Regions from separate parts of the Homo sapiens genome. Here region 1 is linked to region 2. The links come from fine-mapping of genetic effects on gene expression. Tissue or cell type: whole blood. Region 2 holds a variant in brackets; the other region holds the start of a gene. All regions are shown on one strand. Distances are between the middles of the regions.

Evidence for each region. PIP is the estimated chance that this variant, and not a neighbour inherited with it, causes the effect.
Region 1: SMG6 starts here. The variant in region 2 is fine-mapped to the expression of SMG6 in whole blood (TOPMed, PIP above 0.99).

The regions. Positions count from the first base shown.
Region 1 is chr17:2,300,638-2,308,740 of GRCh38, reverse strand. SMG6 (SMG6 nonsense mediated mRNA decay factor) reads left to right here and starts at 4,956. Exons shown (of 19, transcript NM_017575.5): 1 at 4,956-5,108; 2 at 8,077-8,103. The coding sequence starts at 5,021. SRR (serine racemase) reads right to left here and starts at 4,791. Exons shown (of 8, transcript NM_021947.3): 1 at 4,724-4,791. It also overlaps the pseudogene HNRNPA1P16. RefSeq lists silencers at 4,707-4,926, 5,117-5,326 and enhancers at 4,828-5,554, 5,884-6,698.
Region 2 is chr17:2,093,212-2,101,314 of GRCh38, reverse strand. The region is part of intron 13 of SMG6 (SMG6 nonsense mediated mRNA decay factor); the gene reads left to right. SMG6-AS1 (SMG6 antisense RNA 1) reads right to left here. Exons shown (of 2, transcript NR_199038.1): 2 at 1-193. Among named protein-coding and RNA genes, the nearest start is that of SMG6-AS1, 7.5 kb to the right of the region's middle. The variant A/G (reference allele first, on the strand shown) is at 4,855.

The DNA of each region.
Region 1 (8,103 bases), 210 kb before region 2:
CAAGTGATTCTCCTACCTCAGCCTCCCAAGTAGCTGAGATTACAGGAGCGTGCCACCATGCCCAGCTAATTGGCCAGGATAGTCTTGATCTCTTGACCTTGTGATCCACCCACCTCGGCCTCCCAAAGTACTGGGATTACAGGTGTGAGCCACCGTGCCCAGCCAAAAATTTTTCTTTAAAAAGAGTAACTCCTGGGTTTTGACTTAAATGGTGGTACAATTTGTTGAGATTTAAAACAGGAGAAGAAATAAGTATTTGACAGGAAAATCAGATTTGATTAGCTAAGTTTGAATTGTTTATGAAACATCCAAGAGGATGTCCCTTTTTTAAAAATTATTTTTTGCCAGAAATGTGTGTATATTAGTATCTGCTTTATTTCTGAAGAATGAGCTTTTCAATCTATTTAAAGTACAGCTCTTTTTCCCTTATTTCTGATTGTTTACTCTGCCATTTTCCTTTAATTGTCTTCTATATTTGTTGAATGCTTAGCTTACTAATTTTCACTTTAAAAAGAAAGCATATAAGGTTACTTATAGGATTTTTCCTCTGAGAAGTGCTTTAATATCATGGATTCCATTATGCAATATTTTCATTATTATAATTTCTAAATAATCCAAGATTTTAGTCTTGTTTTCTTTTTTGACCCATGAATTATTTAAAATTGGTGGTTTTTTTGTTGTTTTTTTTTTTTAAAAAGACATTTATTCAGTGTCACGATCAGACTATTACATTTAGCAATCAACAGCTTGGGTGCAAAAAAAAAAAATACATTAAAACCCTTTGTTGGAATGCTTTACACTTTCCACAGAACAGAAACTAAAACAACCTGTTATACAACTAGTCACAAATACAGTCTTCGAGTTTTTTGCCCATACACATGAGTATTTGTCTAAAACATATCTTCTTTGTAGCAGCTAGGCCCTGCCACCACTGTGCTTGGCTTAGTTCACAAATCTGTTGTAACCTGTAGCTTCCCTGTCACTTCGCTGGCTCTCCTCTCATGCTAAGCTTTGTTGCCTAATTAAAATCTTCCGCCACTGCCATAGCTACTGCTGCTACTGGAACCGCCATAGCCACCTTGGTTTCGTGGTTTGGTAAAGTATTGGCCTGCACCACCATAGGGGCCAGAGCTTCTGCCTCCAAAGTTTCCTCCCTTCATGGGTCCAAAAATTGAAGACTAATTGTTGTAATTGCCAAAATCATTGTAGCTTCCACCTCCAAAATTGCTTCCATCATTACCAAATCCATTATAGCCATCCCCACTGCACGATATCCACCACCACCACAGCTGCCACCAAAGCCACCATGACCACTGAAATTTCCTTCACAACCAAAGTTGTCATTCCTACCGAAACCACCTCCACGACCACCACCAAAGTTTCCAGAAGTACTTTGACCTCTTTGGCTGGATGAAGCACTCACCATCTCTTGCTTTGACAGGCCTTTCCTAATTTCACAGTTGTGGCCATTCACAGTATGGTATTTCTGAATGACAGTCTTATCCACGGAGTCATGATCATCAAAGGTTACAAAGGCAAAGCCCCTTTTCTTGCCACTGCCTTGGTCAGTCATGATTTCAATCACTTCAGTTTTTCCATACTGTTCAAAATAATCACTTAGGTGATATTCTTCAGTGTCTTCGTTAATGCCACCAACAAATATCTTTTCCATAGTTAAGTGGGCATCTGGTCTTTGAGAATCTTCTCTTGAGACAGCTCTCTTTGGTTCCACAACTCTTCCATCCACCTTGTGTGGCCTTGCATTCGTGGCTGCATCCACCTCCTCCTCAGTGGCATATGTGGCAAATCCAAAGCCCCTGGAGTGCTTGGTGTTTGGATCTCTCATTACCACACAGTCCGCGAGTGTTCCCCATTGCTCAGAATGGCTCCTCAGGCTCTCATTGGTTGTTTCAAAGCTCAGCCCTCCAATGAAGAGCTTCTTCAGCTGTACGAGCTCTTTAGGAGACTCTGACTTAGACTTGGCGGTGTCCATGGGTGGAAAGTGTTTGTTTTGTTTTATTTTTGAGACAGAGTCTCTATCTGTCACCCAGGCTGGAGTGCAGTGGCGTGATCTCGGCTCACTGCAGCCTCTACCTCCTTGGTTCAAGTGATTCTCCTGCCTCAGTCTCCCAAGTAGCTGGGATTACAGGCACCCACCACCACGCCCGGCTAGTTTTTGTATTTTTAGTAGAGACGGGGTTTCGCCATGTTGGCCAGGCTGGTCTCGAACTCCTGACCTCAAGTGATCTGCCCACCTTGGCCTCCCAAAGTGCTGGGATTACAGGCATGAGCCACGGGGCCTGGCCTAAAATTGTTGTTTTTAAAAAAATTCCAAATGGTTAGAATGTTTTGCTTCATTTGTGGCTATTCACTTCTAGTTTTATTACTTTGTGCTAAGTAAATATGACCTGTACAATTTTTTTTTTTGACGGAGTCTCACTCTGTCGCCCAGGCTGGAGTGCAGTGGAGCAATCTCGGCTCGCTGCAACCTCTGCCTCCCAGGTTCAAGCAGTTCTCCTGCCTGAGCGTCCCAAGTAGCTGGGACTACAGGTGCCCGCCACCACACCCAGCTAATTTTTTTGTATTTTAGTAGAGATGGGGTTTCATCTTGCCCAAGCTGGTTGGGAACTCCTGAGCTCAGGCAATCTGCCCACCTCGGCCTCCCAAAGTGCTGGGATTACAGGCGTGAGCCACCGCGCCCGGCCAACTTGTACAATTTTTACTTTTAGAAACTGAATTCAAGGCTGGGCGCGGTGGCTCACGCCTGTAATCCCAGCACTTTAGGAGGTTGAGGCGGGTGGATCACCTGAGGTCAGGAGTTCGAGACCAGACTGGTCAACATGGTGAAACCCCATCTCTACTAAAAATACAAAAAATTAGCTGGGCATGGTGGTGGGCGCCTGTAATACCAGCTACTCAGGAGGCTGAGGCAAGAGAATTGCTTGAAACCAGGAGGCAGGTTGCAGTGAGCCAAGATTGTGCCACTGCACTCCAGCCTGGGCAACAAGAGTGAAACTCCGTCTCAAAAAAAACGAAAAACAAAAAATCTCAGCAGCTTTCATTGTGATACTGACTTAAATATGGTTGTCTTTCTTGTCATTTCTTTTTACCTGGTATTTCATGAATTCTTTAAATCTGATAATTCAAAAATTTCCACCAACGTAGTAAATTTTCTTCTACTATTTGATTATTGCTCTTCTGCAGTCAGCTGTATTATCCCCTTCTGGAACTCGTATTTAATTATTAATTTTTTGTACCCCTTCTCCATGTCTCCTATCTTTGTCTCTCAGTTTTTATCTATTACCTTTTCCTTCTGAGTTCTGGTAAATTTTCTTGAACTGGTTTAACTTTTGGCATATCTAATCTGCAGTTCACTGACACTGTTGCATTAAATGGGTGGTGCCATTTGTCCTAAGAAAGTTTTCTTGTTTTCCATTATTTTTCCAGCTGAAAAAAGAAATCATGCAATGGCCTCTCAAATTTCAATATGAAACAGATTATTTTTTAACGCTTCTTCCTATTTCTCTCAAATCTGGTGGCAAAGGCTGTCTTCTGCTCTGACCACTCAAATGGTTCCTCTTCTGAACTGTTGGATCTTTTCACCCATCATCTACTGACTTTCTTCTTATGCTTAACCTTCCGGTGACAAAGTGTCACGTAAAAGGAACTGAAGGAGTTCTGTCAGAGGTTGTGGCAATCCCTTCGGCTCAGACTAAGGAATAATTGGTAACTATTCTGTGATGGGTGTGGGGTAAAAGCCTATGGGGCTGTGGAGGGGCAACAGGTGGAGGCAGGAGGCCTTGGGGAAGGGAGCTTCACCTCTGTACAGTTCTCCAAAAAAAGATTCAAGTACCAGCCTTCTGGTATAGTTCAATTTTAAAGATGGGAAATTAAAAAGTCAACCTGAGATCCACAGCAGTAATTTTTTTCAAGAATCCATAGTGACACAGAAATTCCCAAATTGACTTTTTTTTTTTTTTGAGGCGGAGTCTCGCTCTGTTGGAGACTCCCGGGCTGGAGTGCAGTGGCGCGATCTCGGCTCACTGCAGTCTCCGCCTCCCGGGTTCAAGCGATCCGCCCGTCTCAGCGTTCCGAGTCGCCGGGATTACAGGTCCCAAATGGACTTATATGCCTCCTGATGTACTTCCTTCCACACGATTCCAACTATATCGTATCTAGTTTTTAAAAGTCAGGGGGCGGCCGGGCGCGGTGGCTCACGCCTGTAATCCCAGCACTTTGGGAGGCCGACGCGGGTGGATCACCTGAGGTCAGGAGTTCGAGACCAGCCTAGTGAAACCCCGTCTCTACAAAAAATACAAAAATTAGCCGGGCTTGGTGGCGTGCACCTGTAATCCCAGCTACTAGGGAGGCTGAGGCAGGAGAATCGCTTGAATCCAGGAGGCAGAGGTTGCAGTGAGCCGAGACCGCGCCACTGCACTCCAGCCCGGGAGTCTCCAACAGAGCGAGACTCCAACTAAAAAAAAAAGGGAATAGTAACAACTACTCTTAGCAGATCTTCAAGGTCCCAAGTAATGGCCCGCGGCGCTAGGCCGGGCCTGTGGCGGGAGAGCCTGGCCTAAGGTGTCCAGAGGAGCCCAGGCTGAGGGGTGTCTCTGTCAACCCGAGTCCCAGACTAGCAGTGTCCTTGGTGTCCACGACAACAGCAACGGCAGCCACCGCCGCAAACGCCCGCCTGGCCTGGCACGGCCCGGCCTCGCCTCACCTCAGCTCACCGGCGCCGCGCCTCCAGCTCCAGCCTCCGCGCGCCTCCCCGGCCGCACCTCTGCGCACGCGCAGCGCCCGCCCGCCCCACCCAGGCTCTCGCTCCGGTCCCGCCCCTCTGGAACCGGCGGCGGGCGCTTTTCCTCCCAGCGCGGCCACCGTCGTTCGGAAAGGGAGGGCGGCAGGGGGCGGGGAAAGGCCGGGAGGTGGGCGAGCGCGCGCGCCGCCCGTCTGTGGTGGTTTCCTGGCTGCGCGCGGCGGTGGCGGAGCCGCTACGGCTGTAGCAGCAGCCGCGAAGATGGCGGAAGGGCTGGAGCGTGTGCGGATCTCCGCGTCGGAGCTGCGCGGGATCCTGGCTACTCTGGCCCCGCAGGCCGGGAGCAGAGGTGAGTCGCGCCGCCCAGCTCCTGGGCCGGGCCTGCCCGCCCCGCCTCCCTCTCCTCCTCCTCTGCCTCCTCCCCGCTCGGCCCTCGGCTCCGGAGCCCCCGCCCCTTCCCCCAGCAGTAGGCGCTGGGGCCGCGGCGGACCCTCGCTGCCCTACCTCTCTCGCGGGTTAGTGCGGGGTCGGGCTCGGCCAGTCCTGGCCAGCTCCGGGAGAGCCTGGCCCGAATTCCTGCCTCCACCCTCTTTCTCGCCGCGAAGGTGACTGTTCCTTTTGCCCCAGCCCTCTCAGACCCGCCCCGGATTCCCAGGCATCGGGAGACGCGGAAAGGAGTGGGGTCTGGTGGAGGCCCCGGGCGTATCGCTCTCCAGGCCGCCCTCCGCGGGCCTGCCCCGGCCACCGCTTTAACGTCGGAGAGAAGGAATTGGGGAGAAAGGTTTAAGAGCCTGCGACTTCGTTGCTGAACTTTTCCCCCCCAAGACAGGCTTCCGAAAGCTGCGCCACTGGAGGGATCCGGGACCTCAGACTACTCGGGTTTGGCCCTGGCATGTGTGGGAGCAGTTTTTATTAGAGAGAATGCTCAATTTGCAAGTTAATTTCAAGTCTCCAGCCACGTCAGGAAAGTAAGAAAGATTCTAAGTGTCTCACCTCTCCTGCGTTAGGCAATAGAGTTGTGTAGAATGGTAGCTGTGATAGGTGCCTTCTCTAGGTTTGCGGCCAGTCTGTGAAATTGGTTTTTGTTGATTAACATAATTGGATTATTAAGGCTATTTTCTCCCGCTGCTCTAGAAAGTAGTAGGAATAGCTTTCCCCATCCCCCCGCCCCCCACCAAGTTACAGACTGCCGAGGGTGAGCTATTCTTGGGTTAAACTGCTTTATCTTTGTGGATACTTCATGAACCTACCTTTTAAACTTATGAAAATAGTGAAGCACTATCCAAAACCTCAGTCTCTTTTCTTCCCCTTTTCCTTACACCTACAAACAGTAAATGTACTTGCTGGAGCATATGATTCCTGTTTTGGGCTTGTTTCCATTTATATTTAGAGAGCAATACTAGGATTAAAAACTTTTTTATTGTTGTTATTATTATTTTTTGAGACGGAGTCTAGCTCTGTCGCCCAGGCTGGAGTGCAGTGGCGCGATCTCTGCTCACTGCAACCTCCGCCTCCCGGGTTCACGCCATTCTCCTACCTCAGCCTCCCCAGTAGCTTGGACTGTAGGCGTGTGCCACCACGCCTGGCTAATTTTTTGTATTTTTGTAGTGACGGGGTTTCTCCGTGTTGGCCAGGATGGTCTGGACTCCTGTCCTCGTGATCCGCCCGCCTTGGCCTCCCAAAGTGCTGGGATTACAGGCGTGAGCCACCGTGCCCGGCCAATTTTTTTGAGGCAGGGTCTCACTCTGTCTTCCAGGCTGGAGTGCAGTGGAGGGATCTCAGCTCACTGTAGCCTCCCCCTCCTGTGCTCAAGTGATCCTCCCACCTCAGCCTTCCGAGTAGCTGGAATTACAGACCTGCACCACCACACCTGGCTATTTTTTGTATACGTTATAGAGACAGGGTGTTGCCATGTTGCCCAGGCTGATCTCGAACTCCTGGCCTCAAGCAGTCCTCCCGCCTCAGCCTCCCAAAGTGCTGGGATTATAGGCGTGAGCTACTGCACCTGGCCTATGCTAGGATTTTATATAGCATTCCATTTGTGTACTTGATAATATTCTCCCGAATTCTGTCACTTTTCCATTGTAATGTTTAGTGGTTACTTTTGATAACGGTAACAGATACTTTTTTAAAAAACCAGATACTTAAGTAAGTATCTGTCCGCTGGGCTGGAGTGCACTGGCGCGATCTCCGCGTACTGCAAGCTCCGCCTCCTGGGTTCACGCTATTCTCCTGCCTCAGCTTCCCGAGTAGCTGGGACTACAGGCGCCCACCACCACGCCCGGCTAATTTTTTGTATTTTTTGTTGAGACGGGGTTTCACCGTGTTAGCCAGGATGGTCTCGATCTCCTGACCTCGTGATCCACCCACCACGGCCTCCCAAAGTGCTGGGATTACAGGCGTGACCCACCGCGCCCGGCCGAGAGTGGTTTCTAAAGTCCTGTATTATTCTTAATTCTTGAGTTCCCAGTTGTTGGCATTTTGAGAGTATGTCACAATCTTTCCATCAGCATCCAGGGAAAGTTCCCTTATGGAACTTTTTTCTAATAATTCCATCATCACAGTAGCAGTTAGTGTCAGTATTCTAGTATGATAGTCTGAGCAGTATTTTGGTAACTCTGTGAGCTACTGTTAGTGAGTTGGTGAGGATGGGTGAAGTTGAAGAATGGGAAAAGAACTGCTTGCTGTTTAATTCACCAGCAGGTATGTTATTTGGTAATTGGTATCTTGAAGAAGAGAATCATCCTGGTCAAGTTTAAAGACTAAAGTTGCATTTTTTTTCTCCAGAGATGTCCAGGACTGATAATTGTTATAATACCCTCCCTCCTTTTTCTCCTTTTTTACTTCTTCCTCCTGCTGTTATGTTAAAAGAACTTAGCCACCCAGGAAAAAGTTAGAGGCGGAAGAAAAGGCTGAGGTGGATTCACAGGCTCTATAGATAGAGAACAGTGTAGTGCTGAAAAGGTTAGAGAGGTCTTTTGTTCTGACAATAATGAGGTAGTTTGGGATCTTGGATTTCTGAATATGACTTGGATGACACATAAGGAGATGGGTTTCCCCCATTTCACTTACCCAAGTGTAGGTAGCCCCAACACAGTTAGGTCCTTAGCCTTGTGAATTGTTGAACAAGTGTTGTAAACCCAGAATTTCTGCTTCTACAGAAATGTCCTTCTTTGCCTACCAGTATTAGCATTTGGATATGTAATTCTTGCTCGACTTTTTTTGTTACTTAACCAGAATGACAGTCTTTCCCCTATCTTCCTTCTTTATTCTTATCTTCTACCTTTCCCTCCCAAACTCTTTCCCCGACATAACAGAAAACATGAAGGAATTAAAGGAGGCCA
Region 2 (8,103 bases):
GTCCTGGCAGCATAGCGAGGCCCCATCTCTACAAAAATAAAAATTCAAAAATTAGCTGGGCATGGTGATGCATGACTGTCGTCCCAGCCACTTGGGAGGCTGAGGCAGGAGGATTACTTGAGTCCAGGAGTTCAAGGTTGCAGTGAGCTTTGATCACGCCACTGTACTCCAGCCTGGGTGACAGAGCAAGACCCTGTCTCAAAAAATATATAGATAGTAGTAGTGTTTGCACCTTTGAAAAATAGAGTTGCATTTTGAAGAGTCTAGTAAAATTGTGACCACTTTGACCTAACCTTCCATCCTTTAAAGCAGTAATTCTAAAACTCAGTGTTCATAAGTACCTGGAACACTTACACACATTCTGGCCAGGTGCTGTGGCCCACACCTGTAATCCCAGCACTTTGGGAGGCTGAAGCAGGGGGATCTCTTGAGCCTAGGAGTTCAAGACCAGCCTGTGCAATACATTCTGGCCAGGTGCTGTGGCTCACACCTGTAATCCTAGCACTTTGGGAAGCTGAAGCAGGGGGATCTCTTGAGCCTGGGAGTTCAAGACCAGCCTGTTCAATATCGCGAGACCCCATCTCTACAAAACATTTTTTAAAAATTAGCTGGATGTGATGGTGTGCGCCTGTATTCCCAGCTACTCGATAGGTTGAGACTGCAGTGAGCCGTGTTTACACCACAGCACTCCAGCCTAGGTGAGAGAGCAAAACCCTGTCTCATAGAATAAAATGTTTAAAAGTACACATTCTAAGGTCCTATCTCAAGAAATACTAATTCATTGAATTCAAAGTGGAATCCATAGCCAAGGAGTAGTGTTAGGTAAAAAGAAAACAAACAAAGTCGGGCACCAGTGGCTTATGCCTATAATCCCAGCACTTTGGTAGGTGAAGGAGGGCAGATCACTTGAGGCCAGGAGTTCAAGCCCAGACTGGCCAATGTGGTGAAAACCCATCTCTAAAAAAAATACAAAGATTAGGCCAGGGACGGTGGCTCACTCCTGTACTTGAACACTTTGGAAGGCCGAGGCGGGCGAGTCATTTGAGGCCAGGAGTTTGAGACTAGCCTGGCCAACATGGCAAAACCTCATCTCTACAAAAAATACAAAAACTAGCTGGGTATGGTGGCACTTGCCTGTAATCCCTGTTGCCCAGGAGGCTGAGGCAGAAGAATTGCTTAGATCTGGGAGGTGGAGATTTCAGTGAGCCAAGATTGTGCCACTGCACGCCAGCCTGGGCAACAAAGCAAGACACTGTCTCGAAAAAAAAAAAAAAAAAGATAAAAATTACCTGGGCATGGTGGCAGGCACCTGTAGTCCCAGCTACTCAGGAGGCTGAGATGGAAGGATCACTTGAGCCCAGAAGGCAGAGGTTGCAGTGAGCGGAAATCTCACCACTGCACTCCAGCCTGGGCGACAGAGTGAGACCCAGTCTCCAGAAAAAAAGTGGAGTTCGGGAATCTGCATTTTTAATAAGCTCAGCGTGTGATTGTGATACAGTTGGTTTTGAAAAAATGCCTTTTCATGTTCAGATGTGAAGAAGGGAGAACTGACACTGATTGAGCTGGTTCTGTATGGCAGCCATTTGCTGACTTACACGTTATCCCGAGCTATGGATAGGCTAGTTCGTTTTCGTTAACAAAGCTTCTCTTGTCTCCAACTATGAGGCATGGGTCATGTTTGTGATTCAGGACTCCAGAAACATAGAACCTGAAAATGCAACTTAAAATGGCTTTCTACCTCAGCCCAAATCTCAGAGAATGTCTGCATACTACATTTTTTAATATGCTGTGGGGGTTCTTCAGATGTGGATGTAATTTTTTTTTTTCAAAGCATGACATCAGTGCTTTGAAGATCATTAAATGTCACTTCTTAGGAGGTACATTTTACCTTGACCTGGTACAACAGCCTCCATGGAGTTAAGACCTGCCCAGAGCGTGGCTTCTTCTGGTATCTGGTTTCACATGAGAAACTGGAGGCAGCCTGTCAAAGAGGAGTCCCTATTCCTTATTGAGTCCAAACCCCCATGAGGAGCACCCCCCAAACAGAAGGTAGCATCTCCGAGTGTGTCCAGGTGTCTGTGTTGCACAGCTTCGGGGAGCATGATTGACACAGTATAGGCAGTATGGCCGCACCACCTCCGTGATGTCCTCTGGGATTGTCCTGAGGCTGCCATCTGACCCCCACGATCACTCATCCACATTGTTCAGGTATCCATAGTGCATGTTAAATACTGCAGATAGATTTTATTTTAAGCACACACACAAACACACACACTAGTGCCTCCCCTCAAGAATCTTACTTAGGAGAAAAAAACACGACAGATTAATGGGAGAAAGATATTAAGAATTGTAAATAAAACCAACTGATAAAATTCATGTAACATGGCCAGGCACGGTGGCTCACGCCTGTAATTCCAGCCCTTTGGGAGGCTGAGGCGGGTGGATCACCTGAGGTCAGGAGTTTGAGACCAGCCTGACCAACATGGGGAAGCTCCGTCTCTATTAAAAATACAAAAATTAGTTGGACATGGTGGCGGGTGCCTGTAATCCCAGCTACTCGGGAGGCTGAGGCAGGAGAATCACTTGAACACAGGAGGCAGAGGTTTCAGTGAGCCGAGATCACGCCATTGCACTCCAGCCTGGGCAACAAGACCGAGACTGTCTCAACAACAACAACAACAAAAAGTATGTAACATAAACCTGAGAAGGGAATGCATTCTTAGATGAAAAATTTAGGATCCAAAGAGAACTTAATAGGTTGCAATGGGGAGAAGTAAATGACAAGATGAAATCAGAAAAGAAAGAATGTAAAACCCTACCCTGGTCCAAAAAGTCAGCCACACTTAGCATGTAGCATGCAGCACAATGGTAAATAATCGGATTTCTTCAGGCATGGGGAGAAGACCTTGGTGAAGGAAAAGATGTGAAAGGGAATAGTTGGTGGAGGGCTTGTACTCCATAAAGGGAGATAGGATTTAGCAACATATGTGAAAACAATTTGGGGATTTGTTGATTAGAAGCTCACAATTGGCAGGGCACAGTGGCTCACACCTGTAGTCCGAACACTTTGGGGGGCTGAGGCAGGAGGATTCCTTAAACTTGAACTGGAGTTCAAGACCAACTGGGGCAATATGGTGAAACCCCGTCTCTACAGAACACACAGCCAGGTGTGGTGGCACGTGCTTGTAGTCCCAGCTCCTGAGGAAGTTGAGGCGGAAGGATCACCTGAGTCTGAGAAGTCAAGGCTGCAGTGAACCATGATCTCGTCACTGTACTCCAGCCTGAGGGACAGAGCAAGACCCTGTCCCCCGCCCCCCAAGAAAAGGAAAAAAGAAGCTCACAGTTTATCAGTAGTGCAAGGTGGGGACAACAACAGTAATGCTGTTAAGTCTATTATTAAAATTGAGTATCCCCGATAGAAATGGGAGGGAATGGTCTACTCTCTGCTCTGCTACCAGGTCACGTGGGCACTCACTGTGGGAGACACTTTAGTCTTAGTGAAAGTCTTAGTGAAAGAATAAGCAGGATGTTTAGGAGACAGTTGGAGTGAGGCACAGTTGAAGGAAGTGGGACTGTTTAGCCTAGAGAAGGTGTATAACACAGCAGACCTCATAATTTGAGGCCAGTCAGATAAAAGCAGAATTTGAGTTTGTTTTCTTTTGTTTTTTGTTTTTTTACATGGCCCCAGAGAACCGAATTAGAAGCATTGGGAGGCAGATCTGGGTTTAAAAGGTGTAAACATTTCTAGCAATTAGAAAAGTCCAAAAATAGAATGGCCTTCTGGTAGGAAATATGCCCCCTTACAGATTCAACACAGTAACACACCTCATACAGAATGGTCAGGAAAAAAGTCTGTTAGTGTAGACAATAAAAATGATTGGCTGGACGTGGTGACTCATGCCTATCATCCCAGCACTTTGGGAGGCGGAGGCAAGCAGATTGCTTGAGGCCAAGAGTTCAAGACCAGCCATGCCAACATGGTGAAACCCTGAAATTAGCAGGTGTGGTGGCTCGCACCTGTGGTCCCAGCTATCTGGGAGGCTGAGGTGGGAGGATCACCTAAGCCCAGGAAGTCGAGGCTGTAGTGAGCCGTGATTGTGCCACTGCACACCAGCCTGGGTGGACAGAGAGAGACCCTGTCTAAAAAAAAAAAAGAAAAGAAAAGAAAAATTATATATTTCTTCAATGTTAAGTAATGATTGATTTTAAAAACTACTCCAGGGCCTTGAGTCCTCTCCACCAGAAGTAGTCAAGAAAGACTTGGATCACTGAGGGGTATTTAGAGGAGGTTCTCTTGTGGCTCTGAGTGATTGTTAAGGTCTCTTCCAACCAAAGGACAAAAGAATTCACTTTGTGACGTACAAGTAGTGCAGATGTTGAGGGCTGCTAATGGAGTCAGAGAAGATGAATGAAGTGTAGGCCTAGTCCATAGTTGCTGGAGGGATACCTGTGTACTTGGGAGAGGTTAGTGTGAGGTTCCTGTGGAGTCCTTTGCTGGACTGAAGGTCATGTGAAGTCAAGGACTGCATCTGTCTTGTCTTGTCTTGTCTTGTCTTGTGTGCCCAGGATGTCTAGCAGTCCCTGTCACATAGTAGGGCGTTACGAAAGATTTGTGGAAGGTAGGCTGGCAGACTGGACAAAGGCTAACTGGCGTCTTGAAGGACTTATAGGCTGGGATGGGCGGCTCACACCTGCAACTCCAGCACTTTGGGAGGCCAATACAGGAGGATCACTTAAAGCTATGAGTTTGAGATCAGCTAGGGGACATAGTAAGACCTTGTCTCTACAAAAAAAAAATTAGCCATTAGCCAGGCGCAGTGGCTCACGCCTGTAATCCCAGCACTTTGGGAGGCC[A/G]AGGCAGGTGGATCACCTGAGGTCAGGAGTTCGAGGCCATCCTGGCCAACATGGTGAAACCACATCTCTATTAAAAATATGAAAATTAGCCGGGCATGGTGGCGTGCACCTGTGAATCCCAGCTACTCAGGAGGCTGAGGCACGAGAATCACTTGAACCCAGGTTCAAGACGAAGGTTGCAGTGAGCCGAGATCGCGCCACTGCACTCCAGCCTGGGCGATACAGTGAGACTCTGTCTCAATAAATAATTATTTGCCAGACATAAGTGGTGTGCCTCTGTGGTCCCAGCTACTCTGGAGGCTGAGGTGGGAGGATTGCTTGAGCCCAGTTATTTGAGGCAGCAGTGAGCCTTGATTGCTAACAGAGCAAGACTCTGTTTCAAAAAAAAGAGAAAAAAGAAAAAGACCTTACCAAGCTTAAAAGACGATGAGGGAATGAATTGATTGCTTAAATGTAAAATAACTGCAGGTTGGGGGAGTAATATGTGAACTTTCAGAGGTGCCAGGGGAAGCAGACAGCCTGCAGGGTATAGCAAAGGGGGTTGCCTGGGGCTTGAAGTTCCGGATTAGGGAATAATAGCCACAAGTGCCAGTAGTGATCTTTGGGGGGAGGGGTGGGTGGGCGAGGGTTTGCAAGGAGCTTGGGATTTCATTTGATAGCAAGGCTAAGCCCAAAAGAATTTTCCATCCCGACTTCCTCGGGACCCATCCGCCTGAAAGGAATGAAGGAGCAGTGTCCTGGGTCTCTGCAAGGAGCTTTTCTTCTCCCTTGGGCTGAGAATTCTGCCTTCCTGAGTACCGCAGGTCATGGCAGCCGGGGAGGGGCGCGTGCTCTCTTGATGCAGGGGGTCTGTTGATGTATCTGGTATGAATGTGACCCACGCCACCCAACCCCCCAAGTGAAACAGGGATTTTCCTTTGTTCTGTGATGAGTCCCCAGGGTCTGGAGGACAGTGCCTCACACACACAGTAGGCACTTACATGTTGCTGAACTGCATGTTGCCTAAGTGTGTTGAAGACTACAGATGTCTCCGAGAGTCCACTCTTGTGCCACGCGTAGAATAAATACAATTAGGAGCAAATTTGGTAAAGGAGCCTAAACACAAACCTAAGGGGAGGCCTCCTGGACGTGGCTGTCTAGAAGGCAAACAGTGTGGTTCAGAGTGACTAGAGCCCAAGGTTCAGTGCTTCTGGCCCAGAGCTAACTGGCAGTGTAGAAACAGACTGTGTGTGGATATTTGCAGACTGAGACAGACGGGAGGACTTTCATCCCCAGGGGCTGAGCCTGCAGCCTCCCCTGCTGGTTCAGTAAGTGAGGGCCCCAGCGCCTGTGTTCCAGGTTTCAGATCAGCTGAAGCCAGCCAGACCTGAAAGGCTTGTGTTGGCAGTGCCAATATCCGTCCTTAACCCCTGCCAATGTGGGTGGCTGCTCTAAGAGCACTCTGCAGGGGAAGCAGAATTGGACTGAAGCCCGAGCTACTGCTGCCTATAGCTTGCTCTCTGTGACGCTTTTGCCGCTGAGAATGTACCTTTCTGGTACAGCCGGAGCCGAGAGCTCTAGAAAAGAATAGTTTCTGTCCATGAAGGAACAGTTCAAGAAGAGCAAGCTTACTCTGCCCATGGAAGACCAGACTCCTATCTGGCTTTGTTTGGAACATCTAAGCTCAGGAAATTCAGGTGGGTAGAAAATACCATATTGGGGATCTTCTCATCACTACTTTCATATTGGGAGACATGAGGCAAGGATCCAGCTGGGTCTTATTTAAGAAAGATACCAGGCTGGACACGGTGGCTAACACCTATAATCCCAGCACTTTGGGAGGCTAAGGCAGTGGGATTCCTTGAGGCCAGGAGTTCGGAGTAGCCAAGAGCAGCCCGGGCAACAAAGCAAGACCCCATCTTAGAATAAAATAAGATACTGTTGGCCAAGCAAAGTGGCTCACGCCTGTAATCCCAGCACTTTGGGAGGCCGAGACAGGTGGATCACTTGAGGTAAGGAATTAGAGACCAGCCTGGCCAATATGGTGAAACCCCATCCCTACTAAATATACAAAACTTAGCTGGGTGTGGTGGCACGTGCCTGTAGCCCCAGCTACTTAGGAAGAATCTCTTGAACCCAAGAGGTGGAGGTTGCAGTGAGCTGATATCTCGCCACTGCACCGCAGCCTGGGGTGACAGAGCCAGACTCCATCTCAGAAAAAAAGAAAGAAAGTTACGTTGCAGGGTTTGCAGGGCCTCCTCAAACCCTCAACGATCCCACTAGCAAAGGCAGAGCCACCGCCCGTACCCCACTGTGAAGGGACCTCATGGACAAGGCAATTGTGACTGTATTTCTGATACATTTATTAGTGGCCCGCTTGTTCCGAAGCCCGGGACCTTGGAGCCTCTCTAGATTACTGGAGTAATGCATGCATACCTATGGTTAGGTCCGGAGTCTTTCTGAAGAATAGGGAGAGGGATTGCTGAAGAGAGGCAAGGTCTTTCCTCCCCTGCTTGGCCAGCCCAGTAGCCTGGATCTAGCACCTTAGTTCTGAATAAAATATTTCAGGCCCTGAGTGGTGGCTCGTGCCTGTAATCCCAGTGCTTTGGGAGGCCAAGGTGGGAGGATCACTTGAGGCCAGGAGTTTGAGACCAACAATATAGCAAGACCTCATCTTTACAAAACAATTTTTAAAAATTAGCCAGCTTCCCGCTTGAGCTCAAGAGACTGAGCCTGCTGCAAGCCATGATGACGCCACTGCAAACTCCAGCCTGGACAAATTTAAAAAAAATTTTTTTTGCAGCTTCAACAGCCAGGTAAGCATTCCAGGGCCTCTCCCCTTGGCCCTAGGCTATGTGCCAGCCCCATGCTTCCCACCTTGCCTCTCAGACTGGCTTCCAAACAGCTCAGCCATGTTAGGCAGTGCCCCTCCCACCTCTGAAGAGAGTGGAGATAAGAGGAAAAAAAAATGCCAGCTGCTCAATTATCGAGCACCTACTGGGCCCAGGCATCTCGCTAAGTATTTGATATGTATTCCCTCTGTCTTTTTTTTTCTTTTTGAGTCACGATATCACTCTGTCACCCTGGCTAGAGTGCAGTGGCGTGCTCATGGCTCACTGCAGCTCTGACTTCCCCGGCTCAAGCAATCCTCCTACCTCAGCCTCCTAGTTAGCTCGGACCATAGGTGTGTTGCACCACCATGCCCAGCTTTTTTGTTTGTTTGTTTGTTTTTGACAGACACAGTCTCACTATGTTGCCCAGGCTTGTCTT